2 linked regions of the Homo sapiens genome follow. The protein of the gene in region 1 purifies or fractionates together with the protein of each later gene. This does not show direct contact. Each region holds a gene or a part of one and is shown in the gene's direction. Other genes may lie near its edges.

Evidence for each region.
Region 2: the proteins of FEV (region 1) and TIMM9 purify together in Homo sapiens (affinity purification with mass spectrometry; one large-scale study listed by BioGRID and IntAct). This does not show direct contact.

Annotation. Positions count from the first base shown.
Region 1 is NC_000002.12:218,982,197-218,986,652, reverse strand, and holds the start of FEV (protein FEV), read left to right. Parts: upstream 1-1,468; 5' UTR 1,469-1,577; coding exon 1,578-1,629; exon of another isoform or gene 1,630-1,768; intron 1,769-2,347; coding exon 2,348-2,422; intron 2,423-4,396; coding exon 4,397-4,456. UniProt on the Homo sapiens protein: Functions as a transcriptional regulator. According to PubMed:12761502, it functions as a transcriptional repressor. Functions in the differentiation and the maintenance of the central serotonergic neurons. May play a role in cell growth.
Region 2 is NC_000014.9:58,420,802-58,424,610, reverse strand, and holds part of TIMM9 (mitochondrial import inner membrane translocase subunit Tim9), read left to right. Parts: intron 1-515; 5' UTR 516-603; intron 604-3,809. UniProt on the Homo sapiens protein: Mitochondrial intermembrane chaperone that participates in the import and insertion of multi-pass transmembrane proteins into the mitochondrial inner membrane.

The DNA of each region.
Region 1 (4,456 bases):
GACCAGGCACTTAGCAGGAGACCTGCCCATTCCCAGGCCTCCTCCACCCCTGGGCTCAAGCAGTGAGAGAGGACTTTGAGAATGCCAGTTTTGACAGTACCCGTTCCATACTGCAAGGCTGCAGAAGGTGGGCTTCTGGGCTGGAGCCTCATCTTCAGCCAGCATCCTCCTTAGCCTGCCTCTCCAGAGCCACGAAGCCCCATAGGTACCCAGAGAGACTCCAGGCCACTTGGGAACCACATCAACATCTTTGCATGAGTTAGAAATAGGAATCCTTTTCTTGGAGTGGATTCCAGCCTTGTACAGTGCACAACCCTGTCTTAACCCCTCCACCTCTCCAGCCTCGTTCAGGGATAGCCAGAATGGGAGTAGTGGTGAGGGTGGGTGGCAGACTGGGAGGACAGGGGATGGGGAAGGATGGGAGCAGAATAGTTGTACAGGGAAGTAGCAGGGGGCTCAGGAACCCATCAGGGAAAGCCAGGACAGATTCTCAACATCTTTAGAGGCCTTCAGCAGTCCAAGCCACTACTAATTTATGGGGACTGAATGAATGAGAAAAGGAGGGGAGGGAGAAGGATGAGAGGGAGAGAGAAGGCTGGAGGGGAGATGAGAGTCGGAGAGAAAAGCCTAGGAGGTAAAGAGAGACCTAGAAGGGGGCGGGGAGGACAGAAGAGGGGGCCACCCATCATAAGTTGCCAGGAGAGATGGCCCAGCACCAGGCCTGAGGCTTGGGGGCCCCAGAAAGGCAGGAAACGGGCCAAAGCAAGAAGGAGACGGGGAAGGGGTTCGGGTCTCTAGGGAAGAGCAGAGAGTGGGAGAAGAGGAGGAGGGAGCGGGGATGCGGGCAGAGATAAAGGGAGCAACGGCTGCAGGGCCGGGCGCGCAGCGACAGGCGAGAGGGAGGGAAGCGGAAATTTAAAAGTGAAGATGCAGATAACGCAGCCTGGAGACGGGAACCCGGGTGGGGATAGAGGGAGGGAGGGGGAGGAGAGTGAGCGGCGAGTGGAGCGGGAGCCGACTGGAAGAAGGGCTCTAGGGAGGGGGCTGTGGCTGCTGGGGTCCGAGGTGGGGCCGGGTACACCAGCCCCATCACTGTTTGCAGAGAGTCAGGGAGGCGGAAAAGACACGCGCTCTAGGCTCCCATCAGGGCACATGGCCCGGGCCCATCCCCCGCGCGTCTCCCCGGCTGCGGGGCGCGGGGGGCTGCCGGGTGCGCTTGGCTGTGGCGCGGCGCGTTGGAGACTTTATTGCGATGGGACGATAAGAGGGGCGGGGGCGGGGTCCTGGGGGCCGAGGCGGCAGCGCTTTAATTAAAACGGAAATTGCGGCCCCGGGCCGCGCGGGGGCCGGAGGGTTCCAAGCGGCCCCTTAGCTGGAAGCGTTTCTCCAGGACCCCCCCGCAACCCCCGCCACGCCCGGGCTGCCCCCTCCCGCCAGGCCCTGCCGGACCCGGCGCCGTCTTCTCCTCCTTGTCACCCGCGGTCGCTTCGGGCGGGGATCGGTGCCACCGAGCGCAAAGCCTGCCTCGCCCCCCTTCCCCGTCCCCCCCATCTCCCACCGCCCAGTCCCCGGCGGCGATGAGACAGAGCGGCGCCTCCCAGCCCCTGCTGATCAACATGTACCTGCCAGGTACCAGGGACCAGCCGGAGGCTGGTGGCACCGGAACCTGGGGCGGGAAGTCTAGGCTCAGGCATGGGAAGAGAGTGCTGGGGTCCAGGGGAAGGAGAAGTGTCCGGAGATTCGGGTTGCATGGAGGGCCGATTGTAATGTAGGGCACTGGGGAGACCTAAAGGCAGATAGAGAGCTCTGGGTTTCAGTGCAGGGTCTAGAGGAGTTGAAATGAGCAGATTGGGAGCCTGGGGGCCAAGAGCCGGGACTCAGGGACCCGAAGGAGCCTGAGAGGGGAAGCACGGGTCTCTGGCGTGGTGGAGTACTCTGTGGCCGAGCCGTACCAGAAGGCTGTGGTCCGCGGGCGTCTCCCCTGCGCTCTCACGGCTCCTCACCTTCCTGCTACGAGCTTCAGGCCGGCCCTCCAGGCACCCTCCTCTTCTCTTCGCGCTCCAGCTCGGCTGGCGCAGTTCCCCGCTCGGCTTTATAAGGCTCCAGCCGGCCCCTTCGGAAAGCGGATTTCCTTTTTCCTGGACGCGTTTCCTGACTTGGGCTCTATGGAGGGGCTCCGCGCAGCGCGCCTGGACCAGGCTCCGGGAGGAGGAGCCGGGTGGCCCGGGCCCCCAGCCTCGCGCCTGGGGACCACAGCACCCCCCTTAAGCCTTGGCCCGGGGCCCTTTTGTCAAGCCCACAACTTCCGCCCGGGGTTCTCCTGATTCTTTTCTTCTGCTGCTTGCAGATCCCGTCGGAGACGGTCTCTTCAAGGACGGGAAGAACCCGAGCTGGGGGCCGCTGAGCCCCGCGGTTCAGAAAGGTGAGATGGCCGGCGCGCTGGGCGGCGGAGGCGAGGTTGGTTGGGGTCAGGGCACAGGCGGACAGTAGGTGGGAGCAGTGTGGACCCAGGGTTCACACTGAAGCCCGGAGTCCTGGCCTGGTTGTGCGGAGGCCTTGGGAAGACAGTCACTTGGTTTTTGGCTCCTGCATCTCCTGAGCACCAGGAAAAGAGTTGCAGGCCAAGGCAGATGGAGAGGATCCCAGCCCCAGGCCCTTTTGCTGCTGTGTATGGTTTTCCAGGCTTTGGGGCAGGGGCTGGGACACTTAGCGTCCTTTCCCTGCTGGTAGTAGGAGCTCAAGGCCGCAGCACCAGCCGGCAATGGAACCGGGGGAATTACTCCCCAAACACAGCGGGCTTCCCAATCACTAGACCCTGGCTACTGCCACCTGCTTCACCCTCCGGCGCTGACTCACGCCGGCTGATCTCTGCTGGCCAACTCTGCCAGACGATTGCAATTGATTCCCAGGTTCACCACCAGCGCTCCACGGGTAGTCGCTAAATTACCCTTTTGACGGCTGGCTCTTCAAGCAGCGTCTCCCCACAGTCCCCATCTCAGTCGTTACCCTAGATCTCACCAAGAGACAGAAACCACAAAAACGAGGTTGGCGACTGTTTTATCCAGAAGGAAACTATGCCCAACAGGAACGGTCATCCAAGCCGCTGAGGTTGCTCCGCCTTTGGTGCCAGGTGCACCTTTGTACCCAAACCTTCCCTTGCTTCTGACCCTAAAACTTAACTCTGGGGACCAGAAACCAGGAAGCTCTTTGCTGGGCTGGCTTGAAGGGATTGGGATTGAAATTATGGGGAAGGGTAGCGTCTGGATTCTAAGCCAGTGGCTGAAAAAGTAAGAGGGGTTCAAAAGACTATATTTGAGGCAGTAAGCAGACCACTTTGAGGAAAATCCGTTTTATTCTAAAAGGGAGTGGGGGTAATTGTATCGGGATTTTTCTCTGCCTGTCTGCTTGAGGCTCCAAGACAGGGGAGCAGGAATTCTGGGACCCCACTCTCTAACCACTCGCATATCCTGGAAAAACCTCCTTGCTGCCTCCAGCAACCGAATTCGGAGGGAGATCACACAAAGACAGGAGGAGGTTGGTAGCCAAGCACAACAGCTGCTCGGTCCGTTCCCCTCCTCAGAGTTGTTCATCAGGCCCCGAGAACTATGGCACCTTCGTAGGCAGGGAATCCCGCCTGTTCCGAAAATAAGAGGCCAAATTCTCAGGGCCAGCGCAGAGGCCTGCGCACCCGAAGGTGGCTAGGATAGTGAGCCCATGAGAGCTTGCCCCTCCTGTCACGTATAGGGGGCCACTGTTCGTTCCTACTCCTGTCGGATGTGGTGTCCCAAGGGAGCCAGCCACCACTCCACCTCAGGAGTAGCCTGTCCAACTACGTCTTTGGGGACTCGGGACTAGCTGGGCCTTGTCCAGCAGTGGTTGGGGTCGTCCTGCTGCACGCCTGTCCCTTCCCACCTCTGGATGTGGTCCAGCTGGGATGGGGCAGTCCGATCATTCTGCCCAAGGCCGCCCTGTACGGTTGTGCGTCTTTTCCCTAAATAAGGGCGCCCGGCTGAGATGGAGAGTGGCGGCGGATATCTGTCCTTGCTCGCCTTGGAAAGCCAAGTGCCTTGGTGCGCCGCTGCGCTCACGTGGGGGGAGGCAATGCTTCCCCTTCCCCCCAACCCCCAAGTTCCACAAAACCGTGCATCTGGAAAGCTACGTGCTCTTCAGTGGAAGCCGCATTTCCATTGTGCAAAAGCGCGGTAAGGCTACACACCACTCTGCTGATCAGCCCCTCCGGGGCCGGCCTCTCCCGCCGAACGCAGCTGCAGTTTGACTTGCACTTTTCCTCCCCCAGTGCCGGTTCCTGCCGGGGTGGGTCAGTTTCCCGCCAGCACTCTTCCCCAGTTCCCGCCTCCCCGCTCCCGCCTGTGGCTGACCGCCCCCCTCCCCACAGGCAGCGGACAGATCCAGCTGTGGCAGTTTCTGCTGGAGCTGCTGGCTGACCGCGCGAACG
Region 2 (3,809 bases), on another chromosome or scaffold:
AGCCACTGCACCTGGTCAGTCACTTAGCTTATAACATATATTTGGCTATTTGGAAAATATTTTTAGATAGATGATATGTGTCATAATAGCTTATAAGACATTTTATAGGTCTTAAATAGGTCATTTTATAGGTGCAATGGGGAAAATACTGGATTTTGAAGTCCAAAGACCTTAGTTAGGCTCCAGCTGTCCAGTTACTATCTGTATAAGTGACCTCATGTAAGTTTCTTAAGATTTCTGAACCATCCCTCCCAGAATTAGTAGGAAAATCATAAGGGAAGTGTAATGTATACTTATACCTGGATAAATAAGGATAGCATGACATTAAGTATTTTTTTTAATAGTAACACATATGCCAAAGAATTGTAACCTCAGAATAGAGGAAACTAATTTCACTTACTAAAAAGGAAGAAACTTTAAAAAAATAAATGATTAGCCAATAGAAGTTTACATTTCATTGAAAAGACTATTAGAACTTGAAGGGGACTTAGTAATCATATTACCTCATTTTTCAGGTAAGAATCAGGCCTTATTGGAGACATTCAAGCAAAGGTTGGACAACTACTTTTCCAGAACAGAAAGGAAACTCATGCATCAGAAAAGGTTAGAGCTTGATGACTGATAAGATCTCCCTTTATTCTTAAGTTCCCTGGTTCTAGGATATATTTTGTTTGCCACAAGAATAACAGCATCATTGTAATCATTCCCAAGATCTAAGCCAGTGATTCTTGAATTTGCTTATTTCTTCTCTCCCTCTCCAGGTTTCAGGGATATAATCAGAAGGTAACCCCTGATGGGTCTTTGCCACAGTAACATAAATTTGCTGTAATATATGGAAACTAGGATCAAATAAAAGAACAACCACATTACTGCTACCTGTTCTCACCATCAGGTGGTTTATGTGGCTGGTGGAATTTGTTAGTCTAAGCTTACTATTAAATAACTGCGAAGTGAATAGTGAAAAATTTAGAAGACCTCAAATTAGCAAGTAACTCTGAAAATCATTGATTTACTCAGTCATCTCCAGTATTTTCTCTGAACCAGTTGCCTACAATTATGTATACCATAATCTTTTTTTTTTTTTTTTTTTTTTTTTGAGACAAAGTCTCGCTCTGTCACCCAGGCTGGAATGCAGTGGCACAATCTCAGCTCACTGCAGCCTCTGCCTCCCAGGTTCAAGCAGTTCTGCCTCAGCCTCCCGAGTAGCTGCGATTATAGGCATGTGCCACCATGCCCGGCTAATTTTTGTATTTTTAGTAGAGACGGGGTTTCACCATGTTGGCCAGGCTGGTCTCAAACTCCTGACCTCAAATGATCCACCCGCCTTGGCCTCCCAATGTGCTGGGATTACAGGTGTGAGCCACTGTGCCTGGCCTATACCGTAATCTTGATAGATACTGGTGACTACCGAGGATAGCTTTAGAGATTTAAGCAGACTTAAGAAAACTTCTGATTGTTAGCTCTTGAGTTCAACTGTTAGGTCTGGAAAAAAAAAATACCAAATTGGTCTGGGTGCAGTGGCTCACGCCTGTAATCCCAGCACTTTGGGAGGCTGAGGTGGGTGGATTACCTGAGGTCGGGAGTTCAAGACCAACCTGGCCAACATGGTGAAACCCCATCTATACTAAACAAAAATTAGCCAGGTGTGGTAGTGCATGCCTGTAATCCCAGCTACTCAGGAGGCTGAGGCACAAAATCACTTGAACCCAGGAGGCGGAAGATGTAGTAAGCTGAAATTGCACCACTGTACTCCAGCCTGGGTCTCAGAGTGAGACTCTGTCTCAAAAATAAATAAATAAATAAATCTCAAAAATAAGTAAATAAATAAATAAAATACACAATTGAGTGATTCTAAAGAAAATAAATCATAGTGTTAACATAGTGGTCTGTGAATGGTAGAACTATCTTTTGTTTTTCAAATTCTCAATAAATATATTACTTTTATAGTATGACAGACTTTATTTCACTGAAAAGAGGAAACATACACTGTTTAAGTAATGTATATTAATACATTAATGAATAAAGAAGATTCATACCAACAGCACTTGGGGCATTCCTCATATATGTCTTTTCAGATTTTTTAGTAACAACCATCATTTATCACCATGAGATATATAATAAGGACAAGATGTGTGTAGAGGCAGCACAGGGTACCAGTATGAAACTTAGAGAACATTTAAAGATTTCATACTTTCGACTGGGCACAGTGGCTCATGCCTGTAATCCCAGCACTTTGGGAGGCCGAGGCAGGAGGATCACCTGAGGTCGGGAGTTTAAGACCAGCCTCACCAATGTGGAGAAACCCCCGTCTCTACTAAAAATAGAAAATTAGCTGGGCGTGGTGGTGCATGCCTGTAATCCCAACTGCTTGGGAGGCTTAGGCAGGAGAATCGCTTGAACCTGGGAGGCGGAGATTGCAGTAAGCTGAGATTGTGCCATTGCACTCCAGCCTGGGCAACAAGAGCGAAAACTCCGTCTCAAAAAAAAAAAAAAAAGATTTCATACTTTCTGTCTCTCTGACCTCGGGTTGATAAGTCAATAAATAAGAATTTTAACCCAAAGAAATACAAGGATGGAATTAAAAAAAAAAAAAAAAAGAACAGATTTTGGCATTATAAGAAGGAAATCAGCTCTGTGTTATTTTTTGATGTGAACTGTAGAAAGTCCAGTTTGCTGGGTGTCCTCCTGAGGTGCAGTGAGTGTACTGTCCTTATTCGACAATTCAAAAGGCTCAGGTCTAGTAGATGACCTTTTGAACTTTCAGCTAGGAGCCTATTGGTAAACAAAGTTCCTTAATGCATATTTTATTACCCTTGTATTTTTTTTCAAGTTCTCACAAAACAGTGATTTCATTTAATACTTCTTTAGAAGTTGTTTTACCAGTTCTTAGATCTTTTCAGACTGTTTTCTGAGTGGGAATCCAGAAGAACTCTAGCTTGGAATGCTTGCTAACAGTATCTACCACGCTGCATGTTGTTCTTTGGCAGGTACCAGAAAGTTATACAATAACATTTTTTTTCTTTATTATTAAACTTTTTATTTTGAGGTTAGTGTGGATTGAAATACACTTCCAACAATTAACACAAAGGTCCCCTGTGTCCTTTACCCAGTTTTCCACAATGGTAACATCTTACAAAACTGGAGTACAATGTCACTCACATCCAGGATACTAATATTGATACAATCAAGATACAGAATATTTCTATTACAAAGGTCTTGTGTTGCCTTCTTATAGCAACACCTACTTTCTTCCTACTCCTTCCCTCATCCATTCCTTAACCCTTGGCAACCATATGTTCTTCATTTCTGCAATTCTGTTATTTCAAGAATGTTGTATAAGTGGAATTATACAGTATTTAACTTTTTAGGATTGGCTTTTTTCCTCAGCAGAATTTTCCAGGCTTTTGCAAGTATCAATACCTCATCCTTTTTATTGCTGAATAGTATTACAGGTATAGATGTACCAATTTGTTTAACCATTCACCCACTGAAGAACATTTGGGTTTTCAGTTTTTGATTATTAAGAATAGAGTTTCTACAAACATTCACATATAGGATTTCCTGTGAACACAAATTTTCATTTCTCTAGGACAGATGCCCAGGAATGCAATTGCAGGGTTATATGGGAGATGAATGTATAACTTCTTTAGAAACTGCCAAACTCTTTACATTCCCAACAGGAATATGTAAGTGATTCAGTTTTTCCATGTCCTCACTAGCATTTGGTATTGCCACTGTTTTTGTTTTTTTGTTTTGTTTTGTTTTTATGTTAGCCATTCTGATAGGTATATAGCTTGTTTTTTTTTTTT